Regions from separate parts of the Homo sapiens genome. Here region 2 is linked to region 1. A link means that fine-mapping ties the variant in region 1 to the expression of a gene that starts in the linked region. Tissue or cell type: whole blood. Region 1 holds a variant in brackets; the other region holds the start of a gene. All regions are shown on one strand. Distances are between the middles of the regions.

What was found. PIP is the estimated chance that this variant, and not a neighbour inherited with it, causes the effect.
Region 2: SMUG1 starts here. The variant in region 1 is fine-mapped to the expression of SMUG1 in whole blood (INTERVAL, PIP 0.98).

The regions. Positions count from the first base shown.
Region 1 is chr12:54,139,956-54,148,058 of GRCh38, forward strand. SMUG1-AS1 (SMUG1 antisense RNA 1) reads left to right here and starts at 2,647. Exons shown (of 2, transcript XR_007063322.1): 1 at 2,647-2,866. The variant C/T (reference allele first, on the strand shown) is at 4,816.
Region 2 is chr12:54,184,097-54,192,199 of GRCh38, forward strand. It overlaps SMUG1 (single-strand-selective monofunctional uracil-DNA glycosylase 1), which reads right to left and starts at 4,889. Exons shown (of 4, transcript NM_001243787.2): 1 at 4,855-4,889; 2 at 3,723-3,806. LOC105369777 (a long non-coding RNA gene) reads left to right here and starts at 5,001. Exons shown (of 3, transcript XR_944984.2): 1 at 5,001-5,106; 2 at 6,352-6,438.

The DNA of each region.
Region 1 (8,103 bases):
AGCCCACTAGAGGTTGCAGTGAGCTGTGATTGTACCACTGCACTCCAGCCTGGGCGACAGAGCAAGCAAGACCCTGTCTCTAATAAATAAATATCTGACCATGAAGGTGAGCCTTATGGGCAATAAGTTTCAGGGGCAGAAGAAAGTGCTGTCACTGAGGGTCCTCCCAGGAGACTCCCAGAGGCGGTCAGATAGGAGCTATCCTTGCAGTTTTAGAAAGGCTGAGAGCCCATCAGAGGCCTCCAGGCTGCTAAAGAACCATCCTACGGGTTGTCCTTTGTTTCCCCCAGAACATTGGTCATGGGAGGAATGGGCTCCAGCAGCAGCAGGGTAGCATCACCGAGCACCTGCTCGCTGCCAGGCACTGTGCTGGGAACTAGGAACACAGAGAAGAACAAGGAGGTCCATGTCATCAAGGCACCGACAGTCTGGATGGGGAAAGAAACCACGGATCTTTACAAAGCAAGGTGAAAAGAACCAAGACTATAGGTACACCTAGGGCACCGGGGGAGCACCATGCACACACCTAAACCTCCCTGGGAAGGGAAAGGAAAGGGTCATGGAAGTCTCCCTGAAGGGGAGGAGTATGGAAACTATAAGCAAAATTATATGCAAATGGTGCCCCTTTTTTCTCCCTACACTCCTCCCAACTGAAGGTGACCTTCCACCCCAACAATAAATCCTTAGCTTCTTAAACTAAGGTTACAGTGGGGTGTCAACACCCCAACCGACTCTCACTCATCCTCAAATGATCCAAATCTGAACTGGGATTCCAGCCAGATATGGGGTGCCTCCCTAACCCATGTGCCCCACAGTCGATCCCACCCTGCCAGCATCATGACCAGACACTCTATGATTCCTGAGACAGGACAGAGCCTGGGGAACAGGGAGGGGAGCGCCTACTGTCTCCTGGAATTCACATACCCTACAGCCTTCCTCTTTCATGCCCCTGTGTGTGGAAGATGCCCCTGTTCCCCACCGCTCTCCATCTGTGATCTGGCTCCTGCCCTCCTCCTGCTATAGCTGCTCCTCCTCCCCCCTTGGAAGAATGCACCCTCCCCTCAGCTTTCCCTCCACAGAGGCCAGAGCAGGAGGGAGGCTGCATATGGCCCCGTTTTCCTTGGCCTGGGTAGGCTATTTTGGAAGCGAGAACCCTCCTTGCCCTTTCCTCCCCTCTGGGAAGCACCGTCCCTCCCCTCTCCACATTCCCCAGAAGTTCTCAGACTGAGATCCGCCCTACGTGCAGTTATGTGGTGAAATCACTGCTTTCCTCCCCGCCGGAGGCGCCAAAGCTTGGAAGGGAGGGTACTCAAACCTTTGATGTAGGCACGTTTCAGAAGGCCCACCTGTCCCCTCTCTCCCCAGCCCCCAGCCTGAAAGGCTGGAGCCCCTCATCACAGCTTTCCTGCCTGGATTAGCTGGGGGTAAGATCAGGTCACACACACTCTATCCCGCTGGGGGCAATCAGGCCCAACCACACTCGGGGACATCTGTCTCCAGCAAATAGGGGGCAATCCCAAATTTGAGGGGTTCTGTGACACTTAAAAGCTTCAAGCAGGAAGTTCTGCAATTTCTCTTGGACCAGGGCCTGCGGGGAGGGTCGCTCAGAAACCCTCGTTTGATGTTGCGCTTTCATGGCTGTGGTTTGATCCAGATGTTCCCCAATTGTGGGATTTTATTTTTGGGAGGGAGGGGCCCTTGGCTATAAAGGCATTTCCATCATGTGCACATTTGGATCTGGGCCTGCTGGGCGGGGGTGCTCTTCCAGCTCTCACTAACCCCACCCTTCCCCCTAGGATCATATCCTTTCCCTTCACATCCAGAGAAGAGAAGAGGATCCATAAGGGGGCATTCCCAGCTCCTTGATGGTTTGCTGTGTGACTGTCCAAAAATGTCTCTACATCTCTGTTTTTCTGGCACCATAAGCTGAAGTTGGTTCCTAAAGATGGTTCCCAGGTCATGGGAGGAATAGGACAGGGAATTCCAGAACCAAATTTCTGTCTAAGAAAGAAACAATTATCTAAGAAATTGTGAGTGGAATTGGACTGAACGTGGATGAGTCAGGGCTCTTGAAAAAGAAAGTGGCCGTCCCTCTTTGAGTCAGTTCTGCAAGAGTGGACAGAAACTTTTCCAGACTCCCAGGCCTCTCTGCTCCCTCAGAGCTTGAAAAGATTAAAGTCATTCCTCCTCAAGGTCTTCAGTGAAACCCTGGAAATCTTTCCTTCAATTTTAAGAGATTACAGTTCTTCCCATTGTCTAGCCTCTGTCACTACTTGCTGTAGCATGAGGTGGCTTCCCTGGGGGAAAGTGTACCAGTCCCGCTCATTGGTCGTCTAAGACCTCCCAGCATTCCTCAAGACATTTCTGCCTCATGATGTCAGAAGAAGGGCTGTCAAATAGATTTTAAAACCCCAGGCTCGGCCAGGCACAGTGGCTCACGCTTGTAATCCCAGCACTTTGCGGGAATCACGAGAGCAGAAGATCGAGACCATCCTGGCTAACACGATGAAACCCCATCTCTAATAAAAATACAAAAAATTAACTGGGCATCCTGGCAGACGCCTGTAGTCCCAGCTACTCGGGAGGCTGTGGCAGGAGAATGGCGTGAACCCGGGGAGGCAGAGCTTGCGGTGAGCAGAGATCACACAACTGCACTCCAGCCTGGGCAACAGAGCGAGACTCCATCTCAAAAAAAAAAAAAAAAGACTTGGCTCCTCACTTGTATTGTGGGAATCCCAGCCTAAATTGGACATGTGGATGTTGAGCAATAGAGGACAGACAAACAAAGGAATCTCCAGACCCTGCAGGACCCAAGGCAGCAGCCCACGAGTGGATCCTAAAGGATTTTCATCAGCTGCAAGTCTGGGTAAGTGGGCTTTTTTTGGGGGGAGGGGAGAAGCAGCCTGGGATGCTTCTTGCAGGAAGAGGAGTTTCAGAGGAGACAAGAGAGGTTAGGAGCCACTGAGTGGGTGAGGAGGGCCTAGCCCAAGAGGCTGGGGACAACCACGAGAGGCGGGCCAATGGGAGAAGAGGGCACTGTTCCTCAGCGGACTAGGTAGAAGGAGGGGTTGGAGAGAGGTGGGTGCAAGGAAGGAAGAAGGAGGATGGGGAGCTCCCCGTGGCTGCCCCACCTGAAGAATTTGAGCAGCTGTTCCCAGCTCCCCCTTGCTCTGTGTAACATCAAGCAAATGCACGGTGGGGGATCAGCTTTTCCTCTGAAGACCTCAGGGCCAGTTCTCAGGCCTCCCCCTCCCTATGGACTTTAATCCAGTCCAGCACAGATGGATCAGGTCATGATGGTGATGGGGGTGGTAGCATTGGGTCTCCCTGGCTTGAATTTTTTCTTATTCCCCCATGTCCTCTCCTCCTTAGGTGATAATTTATCCTTTCGCATGGTCTTACATACTTCACATGTCTATAGCTCAGAGAACTAAGAAGCACCTCATCATTCTTAAGTTGGGCCTTGCTACCTGCAGGCCCCTCCCCTCCCACACTTACCTTCACACGACTGGGGCAAGTGGTTAGCTTCCCCACGGCCCCCCCAGCCCCTCTCCTCTCCAAGACACCCTTCTTATCTTTCTGACTACAATTAGAGCCTCCTCTCCCTGTAGGGGAGTGAGAGGGACAAGGTCAAGGATCCTCACAACTCAATAACAGCTGTAGAGCCTCACCTATCCTGTGTACTCACAGTGACTCCATGCAGGGGACCAGCAACAAGGGGAAAGGGAGTGGGAGTTAGTGTGGGGACAGGGGAGAAGCATGCATCGGGATTCCCTGCCTGGTCTAGTCTGGTCTGGGAGCAGGGCAGATGCTCAACAAGGCATCCCAGGTCTCGGGGAGCGGCTGGCAGTGGTGAAACACCAGCTCTCTCAGGGCACGTGAAAGTTCATGTTTCCCCTCCCTCTCCTCTCTCCCTCCCACTCTTCATGACTGGATCCAGGGAAGGACACACCTGTCACAAGTACTGCCCTCATCTCTCCCTGTAACTCCACCTCCACCCCCCATACCCACTTTATCCCTCTGCAGGGTTACTAGAGCCTGACCAAAATTCTCTACTGACCAGAGACAGACAGACAGACCTGTTCCCTGTTCCCCAACTTCCAGTGGTGCTGCGCATGGAGACGCTGAGGTGGGACCCAAAGACCTGCTCCCGTCTTCTCTCCTTAGGGACTTGCAGAAGCCCCTTTCTCAGAGTCACCCCTCCCAGGATGAGGTGAAGAGGCTGAAAAGGGAAGGGCCATAATGCTAAGGCTGGGGCAGGGGACAGCGGCGCCCTCCATGCACTCTCCTGATTAGTGCAGGTAAACATAAGGGTTTCCCCCAAATGCGAGGGTTCTGCTTCAGTGCCATGGAAGGCCCCACCAGCACCTGCTGCCCCTCCTGTTCGTCCTCCCTCTCTTCAGCCCCACAATTACCGAGAGCGAGTTGTTGAGGCAAGCTCTACCCCAGGCCTGCGTTAAGAAATTTGGGTGGGATAGGCCGGGCGTGGTGGCTCACGCCTGTAATCCCAGCACTTTGGGAGGCCGAGGAGGGTGGATCACGAGGTCAGGAGATCGAGACCATCCTGGCTAACATGGTGAAACCCCATCTTTACCAAAAATACAAAAAATAAGCCGGGCGTTGTGGTGAGCGCCTGTAGTCCCAGCTACTCGGGAGGCTGAGGCAGGAGAATGGAGTGAACCCTGGAGGTGGAGGTTGCAGTGAATCGAGATCGCACCACTGCACTCCAGCCTGGGCGACAGATCGAGACTCTGTCTCAAAAAAAAAAAAAAAAAAAAAGAAATTTGAGTGGGAGAATAGAGGTAAGAGACATTT[C/T]CTTAGTGTTTACTGCAAACCCTGCCAGGCTAGAGGTGCCATAATCTGCCCTGTATCAGATCCACAGAGTCATCCCACCAAAACCCCCCCCAGGATGTATGTGAGACCACTGGACTCATTGGCACTGGCAAATAAGAAGATGGCCAGAAAGCAATCAACACCGAACGCCCACTGCGTGCTTGGCACTGGGCCAGACTCTGCTGGGGGAGACTGGAGGAAAGGCCCATTTCACTGGTCTTGAGCTCTACATACCATGTTAAGCCAGAGAGGTACATATTACAAATACTGGAGACTCTCATGCTTGAGTATAATCCTATAATCTTATACCCACTCCCATTCAGACGTGTGGTCATATGTGAATGTCAAGCACACAAGCTAGACAGAAGAAAGAACTTCCCTAGGTTGTCAGTACTGTAGAGTAAAATCATCAGACTCGAAGCCCTCATTCTCGGAAGGTGATGAACTGGGAGAGCCCCCGCCTTGCTGGGCCAGGGGTAAAATAAGGCTCCTGTCTGAAGGCAGGGGGATGGTTGAGATGACCCCTCAAGATGCTACCCAGGAAAAGGCAGAGAGGTAAAGTTTCCAGTAGAGGGGCATGAGAAGGAGGGACAGACAGATGGATGGAGGGATGGAGGAGTGCAGGGAGCAGTGCTGGAGAGATGAATGGTCTTGGCTGGACTGATGGGCGAGGCCAAGATGGATGGATGGCAGCTGAGGTTTGTTTACTGGCAGCCCCCAGCCCGCCATCGCCCAGGGGAGAGGAATGGTGGCTGGCACATCAGAGGGCTCTTAGGGAAGCTCATGGAGATGATTTAGATGGGAATGAATCAGCTCCATATGGATTAAGTGTCCCCGCAAATCCCAGATCTTACAGATGAGGGGATGGGGCAAGGGCACTGAGGGGAGGGGAGAGAGTGGGGAAGCAGCGTGGAGCTGGTGCAGGGAAACACGGTCCTGAAGCCAGGGGAAGGGCACCCTCAGAGGGCATGGGGCAGGTCAGCCTGGCACAGATGCAACCCCTGCCTTGGTCTGTTGATACCACTGTTCCTCTTGCTTGGTACCAAGCTTTAGGAAAAGGCCTCCTTCTCCACACCAAACCAACTGTTGGAGTGTCCTTTCTGAGTCCGTTTTGGTCTGTCTCCTCTTGCCTCTGTCTCTTGTTCTCTCTACATCTTCATCTGTCTTTCATCTTCATTTTTCTGTCCCTCTCACTACCTAGCCTTCTCTGTGTTTCTGTCTCTCTCCTTCCACATTCCCCCGCTTTCCACACTCCCACACTTTCCATCTCTTTCTCTAGAGGTATAAATGGTAGAGGGATGCTGCCAGTTTCTCTGAACGTCAGCCTTAGCTCTGCCCTCCTCTCCTGGGGTCAGGTCTGATGCCTCCCTCCCTCTGTACTGTTCTCTCACACAGACCACAAGTTTGGAGGTGGTCAACAGAACAGGGAAGGTGGTCAGAAAAGTGACTTTTTGGCTACAGAAAGTTATTTGTGTTCCTCTCTGCCACCCTGCCCTCGTGCCTTCAGCTGTCCCTTCTCCCAGTGCCAGAGGAGGCTTGGATTGAGCACCCATGCTCTATGGACAACAGCAAGTTGAGCAGACCTTAACATCATTCCCGGGGAGGCAACGGGTCATCTGCTGGCTGGGGTTATCAAAGGCCCCATCTCCTACTCCTCTCCCATGCCCCACAGTGAAGAGCCCCAGAGCTGGCTGTGGTTATGAAGCCGGCTGCCATGTGGGCGACCTGGAGTCAGAGCACGGGGCAGTCACATATGACAATTGGTTGAAATATCACAGCCACTCTCCCCCCACCCCCACTGGTGATCTATGGGCTGCGTGCCCTGTAAAAATTATTTATCGGGGCCTCAGAGTGTCCTGATTTAGTGCCGCTGCCTCTGGGGCCTTGGGGCCTGCCTGTCCACCAGAGTCTAAGCGTTAAACGACGCTAAAAAGTTAAACAGCCAACGCTGGGGGCTCACTCGAGGAGGCACCATAAAGCTGTCGGAGCTGCTTAAATCAGGAGCGAGGATTCCCTGGGACGTCTTCTCTCCATACGCCGCAAGCCAAGAAGGCTCTCCTTACCCCTCTGCCACTCACCCATACCCAGAAGCCCACAGAGGGCAGGGGACACGTGGGCCGGGGGCCTGGAACAGAGCCCAAAAGGAGGCCACGGATGACCTCCTCTGCAGGGCTTTCTCCAGCAGAACAGGGGCCGTGGCTCAAGAGGGTAGGGGTCATGTTGTCCAGCTCACCAACTCTGGGCAGGGGTCTCCTTGTTCCGGTCCAGTTTTTAAAGACTTCCAACAAAAGGCACTGCCAAAGTCTCTCCCAGGGGCCCCTGGGGAGAAGTTGTTTCCCAAGTCTGTCTCACTTCAATCCACGCTTCTGTGTGTTGAATCCACTGGAACTCAGTGTCTTCCCACTCAGGTTTGGAGAGGCTGTGCTGGCCACACCAGCCTGTGACTTCTTGCCTCCTTTCACCCCTCCACACCCACTTGCATGGCTCTCTGAGGAACAGAGCCCCACCCTTCCATCACCACCCTCCGCCAACGCACCCCTGGGTGCTGGCATAACACGCAAGCTTCACAGATGGCTTTTCTCAGCTGAAGCCCAGTCCCTGCTGCCACCACCCGGCCGCCGAGCAAGAGGGAAGGTGGGTCTCTGCATGCTGCCTATCACACCTTCTTTCAGCAGCAATAAAACTCACTCTTAAAACCTCCGCTTGGGTCCCTAATATTTGCCTGGCTATATATCTCCGATGATATATGGACAGAAATTGCTCATAAACGGCTATAAAACCTCTTAGTCAAGCCGGGGAGGAGGCGCATGAGGGTGGGCATGGCCCGGGCTGCAGGAGGATTGGAAGCTGAGCCACTCTGCTGAGCACCCCAAACTCAACTCTAGATTCCAGGGACCAGTGGCTGGGTGTGGGGCCTGACAAGGGTGGAGGAAGAAGACCCAGAGGAAGATCTTCAAGCCTCTCATGTGGTATTATGGGTCTGTCTTACCCGGGTGCTCCAGGCATGCGCTGTGTGGCCTTGGGCAAGTCACTCAGCCACTCTGTACCATGGTTTCCATCACCAACATGAGGATAATGACACCTACCCAGGCTCCTTCATTAAGTTGTCATGACAATCAAATGATACAAATTGATACAAATAATTTATCAATGCTTTGTAAAGTAGAGAGGTTGCATATATCAGGTGCTACCTCCAGATGGGCACAGTGCATAGAAGGCATACTATGTGCTGGATACTTTACTTAATTATCTCTAATCCTGACAACACCT
Region 2 (8,103 bases), 44 kb after region 1:
CCAAGTAGGACTGAACTCATCTCAGTTCTTGGTAATGAAGGGCCCTTTCCCTCCCCACTTCCATTATCTGTCCTCTTCACATGGCACCTGGTGAGGATAAGCCATAGCCACCAAACATCTCCCACTCCAAATCTCCTTTCCATCAGGCATAGGTCACTAGTTCCTGGGCTATGCCGAGCACATAGTAGGTTTTCAATAAACATTTACTGGTGGCATCCTTTCAGCACCTTTAAGGTCATCCTAAAAAAGAAAAGCCCAGCCAGAATGGACTGTTCTGGAAAGCACGGCGCTGAAGAATGAAATGCAAGTGCACAGCCACAGCCCAGAGACCTGGGAAGGCTAATTACAATAGCTTCCAGGTGGTGAGCGACTGCTCTGCACCAGGTACACCTCATTGATCCTCACAACAATCCCATGAGGTGGGTATTACTGCTCCCCTGTTATAAGTGAGGACACTGAGGCTTAGCAAGATTAAGCAACTTGCCCAAGGTCTTACAGTTAGTAAGTAATAAAGCTGGATTTGGTTGAGCCCAATCTCTCTGGCTCAAGGCTATGCTTTAACCACCCACGCCATCTTGCCTTAGATGGTTTGATCAGCCACCCTGCTAATTCTACAACCCCCTAACCCCAGCCTAGCTTCTTTCCCACACTCAGGAATACCGAGTAGGATGATTACAGACTCCTCATAGAATCTTACGAGCTACACAACCATGGCCAGAGCCTCAGGTTTCCACCTTCAAATACAAAGAATAATAATATCCACTTAATAATGTTGACATAAGGAAGGCCAGGCATGGTGGCTCATGCCTGTAATCCCAGCACTTTGGGAGGCCAAGGCGGCTGAATCACCTTAGGTCAGGCGTTCAAAACTGGCCTGGCCAACATGGCGAAACCCCGTCTCTACTAAAAATTACAAAAATTAGCTGGGCATGCTGGGCGTGGTGGCTCAAGCCTGTAATCCCAGCACTTTAGGAGGCTGAGGTGGGCAGATCACCTGAGGTCGGGAGTTCGAGACCAGCCTGACCAAAATGGAGAAACTCCCACCTCTACTAAAAATACAAATTAGTCAGGCATGGTGGTACGTGCCTGTAATCCCGGCTACTCTGGAGGCTGAGGCAGAATCATTTGAACCTGAAAGGTGGAGGTTGCGGTGAGCCAAGATCGTGCCATTGCACTCCAGCACGGGCAACAACAGTGAAACTCTCTCTCAAAAAAAAAAAATTAGCTGGGCGTTGTGGTGGGCACCTGTAATCCCAGCTACTCGGGAGGCTGAGGCAGGGAGAACTGCCTGAACCCGGGAGGCTGAGGTTGCAGTGAGCCAAGATCGTGCCACTGCACTCAAGCCTGGGCAAAAGAGCAAGACTCCATCTCAAAAAAAAATAAAATAAAAAATAAATAAATAAATAAATAAATAAATAAATAAATAAATAAATTTGCCGGGCGCAACAGCTCATGCCTGTAATCCCAGTACTTTGGGAGGCTGAGGCAGGTGGATCACGAGGTCAGGAGTTCAAGATCAACCTGGCCAACATGGTGAAACCCCGTCTCAACTAAAAATACAAAAATTAGCTGGGCATGGTGGCACGTGCCTGTAATTCCAGCTACATGGGAGGCTGAGGCAGGAGAATTGCTTGAACCAGGACCTGGGAGGCAGAGGTTGCAGTGAGCCGAGATTGTGCCACTGCACTCCAGCCTGGGCTACAGAGGGAGACTGTCTCAAAACAAACAAACAGACGTAAGGATGGAATGAGATGTTATGTTTAGGTGAAGGGAGAAAAGAAATGGGAGAGGAAGAAGAAAGGGAAGAGAGAAGGGAGGTGGGAGGAAGGAGAAGGGAGGGGGCAGGAACATGACAGCAAGCTTTGTAAACTGCAAAGGCCATTGCTTCACTCCACTCCCATTCAAACCCAGTGTTCCAACCTGACCATTCTACTCACATTTTCAAAATGCCTTTCCTGCCTCAACTCCCAAAACCTTGCACATACCATTTCTACAGTCCAACCAAATACACTCCTGAAGTCAACCAGGACATCATCCAGCAGTCATCCAGTCAACTAGGACTGTTGATTCCCCAACCTGTCCACATATCCAAATCACTCCCATCCTTCAAAATGCAGCTCAAACCATCCCTTTGATAAAGTCTTCCCTCCTCAGAACACTGCAGTATTTGCCATAGTGTCCCAACCCCACCCCCAACACAAGTAGGTCCCGTGTGAGGCCTGGGAATCTGTGTTTTTTGTTTTGTTTTGTTTTGTTTTTTTTTTGAGACAGAATCTTGCTCTGTCGCCCAGACTGGAGTGCAGTGGCGCGATCTCAGCTCACTGCAACCTCTGCCTCCCGGGTTCAAGTGATTCTCCCACCTTAGCCTCCTGGGTACTGGGATTACAGGTGCGCAGCACCACACCCGGCTAATTTTCGTATTTTCAGTAGAGACAGGGTTTCACCATGTTGGTCAGGCTGGTCTCGAACTCCTGACCTCATGATCTGCCTGCCTCAGCCTCCCAAAGTGCTGGGATTACAAACGTGAGCTACCGTGCCCAGCCTGGGAATCTGTATTTTAAACAAGCTTCCCAGGGTGATTCTGATGGTTGGTGAAGGCTGAGAACCACTGTGTGTCACCATGGTTACCGTCGTCTTAATGAATTCCTTTTGCCTCCCCAGCTAAACTTGGGCAGATCAAGAGCCAGGCCTTGTTCAATCTCCCTCCATAAGCCCAAGGTCCTGGCCCTTATTAGGTACTCAACAAACACCTGCTCAGCAATGTCCATCTTCTTTTTCACTTTTGTTTAAAACTACCTTCTGTGCTGGGCACAGTGGCTCATGCCTGTAATCCCAGCACTTTGAGAGGCCAAGGCAGAAGAATTGCTTGAGGCCAGGAGTTCAAGACCAGCCTGGCTGACATAATGAGACCCCATCTGTAAATATAAAAATAAAATAAACAGCTTTTACCAAGGAGGCACTCCTGATGGATCCTTCTCCACTTCTATATCCTGAGTTCACTCAAGGCTTAGCTGCCCACTTTGCACTCTGCTTGTTTTCCAGACTCTGGGTCTGTGCCCATCATATGTGTGCCTCCCATGCGACAAGGACCATTGTCATTCCTTCCTCTCAACTTTCTGCCTGGGTCAGGAGTGACTTCTCCAAGATAAGAACTCAAGGTTGACACAACAGCTCGATAAACCTATTTTCTCACCCTAGCCTAGGGGAAGTGGGAGAGAAAAGAAATCAGAGGCCCAACTTAGGAAGTCCTTCCCTGACTGTCTCAGTAGTCTTTAACTGATCTGTTGTCCAGGTGGCTACCCAGGACAAACTGGGCTCATACAAAAGCTGAGAAGGGTGCTGTGGAGAACGCCAGTGTTTCAGGGGACCTTGCTTTGCATCTCCCCATGCAACACCAACATTAGCAGATTGGCTGCTCCAGCTCTAGAATCTCGAGAAGTCTTGAGCCCACCTTTGACATTTAGACACCTGTGTTGGAAACAGCAAGGCTGGGGAAAAGAGTGGCAAGATACTACTTTCATTGTTCCATAACTTCAAAGCCTGATCTCATAGCAAGAGCCACAGGCTGGAAGTCAATTGATTTGAATTCTACTCCTGTTTCATCTCTAAGAAGGTTCTCTTGAGCAACTCATTTAACTCTCTTCTCTATGGAAAATCACATACTCCATCCAACCTACCACCTGTTAACTCATTTTTTTTTTCAATACTTATGAGTCTCTTACATGACAGGCACTGCAGCAGTCTCTTGATGAGGAAGAAATCCAAAAAGAGTAAAATGTAGGCCAGGCTTTCTGTAAGCTCATAATCTGCTGTGAGGGCAAATAAACAACTAACTGTAATACAGTGTGATGTGAGCTTTAATACCCGGAACAAAACACTAAGAGAACCCAAAGGAGGAACTTGTAAGTTCTACCCAAAGTCGCCCCAAGAGCCAGAGGCTTAAGAAATGTAGATATTTTATAAAATACGGTGTCATACTACATTAAGCACAAAGACAGCGGAGTTGGACCAAGCGATAAGGCTGACCACCAAGGGCCGACTTCAGACTGATGTCAGACTTCTCTGACATCAAATCCGGGAAGTGAGGAAGGAATCGAAATCACATATGCACTCCCCTGTCCTTTGGAGGCACTCCGGGAGTCCAGGGACAATAATAAATATCCTTAAACGAAATAATAATAATAATAATAATAATAATAAATAATAATAATAATAATAATAATAATAATAATAATAATAATAATGCATAGGCCGGGCGCGGTGGCTCACACCCGTAATCCGAGCACTTTGGGAGGCCGAGGCGGGCGGATCACGAGGTCAGGACTTCGAGACCAGCCTGACCAACATGGTGAAACCCAGTCTCTACTAAATACAAAAATTAGCTGGGCATGGTGGCGCGCGCCTGTAATCCCACCTACTCGGGAGGCTGAGGCAGAAGAATCGCTTGAACCCGGGAGGCGGAGGCTGCAGTGAGCTGAGATCGCGCCATTGCACTCCAGCCTGGAATTCAGAGCAAAATTCCGTCTCAGAAAAATAAATAAATAAACAATAATAATAATAAAGCATAAACTCAAAAAGACCATTTCATCTGGTTCCAAAGGGGCCGACTACTAAGGCACCATACAAAACCTCCGGGGGCGCCCGCTGGCTCCGGCCGACTGGAAAGCCTTGATCCTGCAGACCTCCCAGGCGGTTTCATAGGCTGGGCTCTCCCTGCACTGAGTCTTACCCCATACGGAGGGAGGGACCCCAAAATATAGAAATTCTAACCACCCTCTCGGCTCAGCCCCGACGACCCTGGGAGCCGTCAACTTGCCCCCACAGTCCCGGATTCCCAGCCCCCTACTTCCTCACCTGGTCCAGCTCCCCATCCCGTTTCCGGTTCCTTTCCCCCACCCCAAACCCAACCCCCGGCGCTAAGGACAGTGGGAGTCGTAGTCTACATTGTTTAGGGAAGGAGATTGGCGTACCCGCAGCCACTTCCGCCGGAAATGCTCCAATCCCGGAAGGCGCACTAAATTAGCCCTAAAGATCGCTGGGAATTGTAGTTTAATCTTTCCATCAGCGTTAAATCAGGAAGTCTTGAGAAGTGAAAAGCCACAGCCTGTAAGTACCTAGGAAATCCTGGGTTCTATCCCTAAAGGGCATCGCCCTTCCAAAAGTTCATTCACTATTTTCCCAAAGGGATTGCAAATCAGGAAGCTTCAACCATCCCCAATCCCTCACCCACCTGAAGGTATTAACAATAGCTAAAGACCATTGCTAGGCCCCCTGCCACCGTGGGTATAAGAGACTTCTCCTTTGCAGCCTGCCATTACTTATACAGAACATCCACGAAGACATTTCTGGTAGCTCCTAACAACTTTTTAGCAAGGGGCATCCCCCATTACTGTCCAAGCCCATCTCCAGAGTGTCACCATTTTGACTTCTTTCTCTGCCTTGCTATCTGCCCAACCCTATAACCTCAGTATTAGTCAAGAGTTTTCCAGAGAACAGAACTAACAGGATATCTATCTATATGACGAGATTTATTCCAAGAATTGGCTCACAGGATTGTGGAGGCCAAGAAGTCCCACAGTCTCCCGCTCTGCTGTCTATACACTGGAGAACCAGGAAAACAGGTGGTATAATTCAGGAAAGTCCAAAGCAGGGGAGGAGGCTCACTGCTAAGTCCCAGAGCCTGAAGGACGAAGAACCAGGAACTCCAATGATGTCCAAAGGCAGGTAAAATAGATGTCCCAGCTCATGAAGAAAGAGAATTTGCCTTCCTCCACTCTTTTGTTCTACTGGCCCCCAAGGGATTGGATGGTTCCCACCCATATTAATGAGGGTGATCTTCTTAGTCTACCAATTCAAATGCAAATCTCTTCCAGAAACACTCCACAGACATATCCAGAAATAATGTTTTACCAGCTATCTGGGTGTCCCTTAGACCACTCAAGTAGACACATAAAGTTAGCTATCACTCTTCCATCCAAATCTTCTCCCTCAAATACTTTGTCCAGGAAGGCTTCCCTGATCAATCCTCATCCCATGGCTGCACCTAACAGTCCATTCCCCCACCATTCCCCCATCCCAATATCTATGTCCAAATCTGTCCTATTCCTAGTTTTGTTCTTGTGCTCTATCTGGGTCTGGTTCTGTGTCGTGACTCTAAAACTTTCATTAGACTGGGAACCCCCTAAGGTTAGTTATCTTCTATATTCCTCCCACCCCACAATCTCCACACACCTTAGCACAGCCAAGGCTCTAATCACAGAAGCAAGGTCTCCCTGTGAGTGGTAGAAAAGGAGACCTATAAACCCCAGAACAGGAAGAAGTGAGAGAAAAAGGATGCTATTCCCTTCCCAGGACTTGTCTGATCTCCTATCAACAAAAACTTAATGGGTGCAGTAGGAGCTTCAGGGAGCTGTGAGCAGTGACCTGCTGACATCAAGGGTGAGAAACTACCCTGACCCTTGCAAGACTTTGGAAATGGAATTAATCATCCACCTCATGAAGCCCATAATTTCCTGAGCTTTAATTTTTACCAGATCCTCTCCCTCTCTGTGTCTCTCTCTGCCTATGTTATTTGCCCCTCTCTACTTATGTAAATTTATCTCTATTTCTAGTCTCTTGTGTAGCTTTCTCTCTGTATCTGCAGGTCTCTGTCTCCCTCTGTGAACATCTCCCTGTTTCTGCTTCTTACCCTAGAATGACTGGAATAAGAGAATCTGAGCTTCTAGAACAAGTTCCCCCATCTCTGTGTGTCTATGTATTTCTGTGTTTCTGACCAAAAATAAGGTGAAGGGACCTCATTGTGGTGTCATCTCATTGCTTAAAAATTCCAGGATTTCCACCATCCCTTGGACAACCCTCCTGTCCACCCCGACCCCTCTGTCACTTGCTTGCCCAGCACTTCTGTTCTAGTTTGTCATCTTGGCAGCCCCTCCACATTCAAAGTCTGCTTCTGGCAGAACAATAATGAGTGAAATGAGTAACAGGCAAGCAGAGATCCCCCAGGACCTCCACCTCCCCACCCCTGATTTCAATTTCCTAGAAGACTTGAATAACTGTTTCTGTCCCTATAAGCCCATCCACCCCAGGGAACCCAGAGATAGGAAGTCCAGATATAAGGAGAAACTGAGGCTTAGGCAGCCCACAGTGAGTCCCTACAGCCAATGTCAGAGGGGCCTGGGGCCTTCTCTCTCTCTAGTCCATGCTATTCCTCCCCGCCCAGTGAGTCACTCCCAGGAAAGATGGAGGTGAGGCGCTCTCCTGAAGTAGGCGTGCTTAGAAACAGGGACCCTGAGGCTTTCAAGAGATAGAGCCCAAGAGATGAAACATGGGCTTGGGTGCAGCCCTTCCAACCAGTCTCTTCCATTTATTAGTCTTCATGTCTTCTGGGAAGTCTTCAGGAGGCTGCTGACTGTGATTTACGGGTAGAGCCTTGTGGGGCAGGAACAGAAGATGACCCAGGTTATCGCCTGGGTAAGAGCCTAGAGAGTTGAGTCACCGGTCCTGGGGCAGGGCTCCAGGCATACCCACCAGCCAGCCCCTCTGTCCTGAGCCCGGGAGGGAAGGGGTTAACCGGCTCACTTGTTTTTTTTTTTTTTTTTTTGTTTCCTCGGGCTGCTGGAGCTGTGTTGGGCCATGAGCGCCATCTATCGGCCTCTTTGGGTCCTAGCTCCGACTCTGCTCACTTGGGCTGCTAGGCGGATCTTTCAGCCTTTCCCTTGCCTCGCCGCTTCTCACGGGGAAGGGCTGTCTAGCTGCGGGGCCTCCCACTGCACAAAACAAAGGTCGGGAATTGGAGAAGGTGAAGGCCATGTTTCCCCCTTCATAGATACTAAGTTTCACCCTGTTCAGCTCCCACTCACTGTTTCTGACATGGGGAGCCCCAAAGGGGGTTCTGGTGTTTAACTTTCAGTGTAGCCACCTTCCCCACTTCCACTACACTGGGTCCTGTCCCGATTAGCCCAACAAACATCAAAAGAGCATAGGACAGTGAAGACAGCATAGCAGAGGCCTCAGGACTTTGGGCTCTGGAATCAGACTGCTGCGTTTGAATCCAAGCTCTGCCACTTACTCATGGTGACCTTGGGCATGCTACTTAATTTCTCT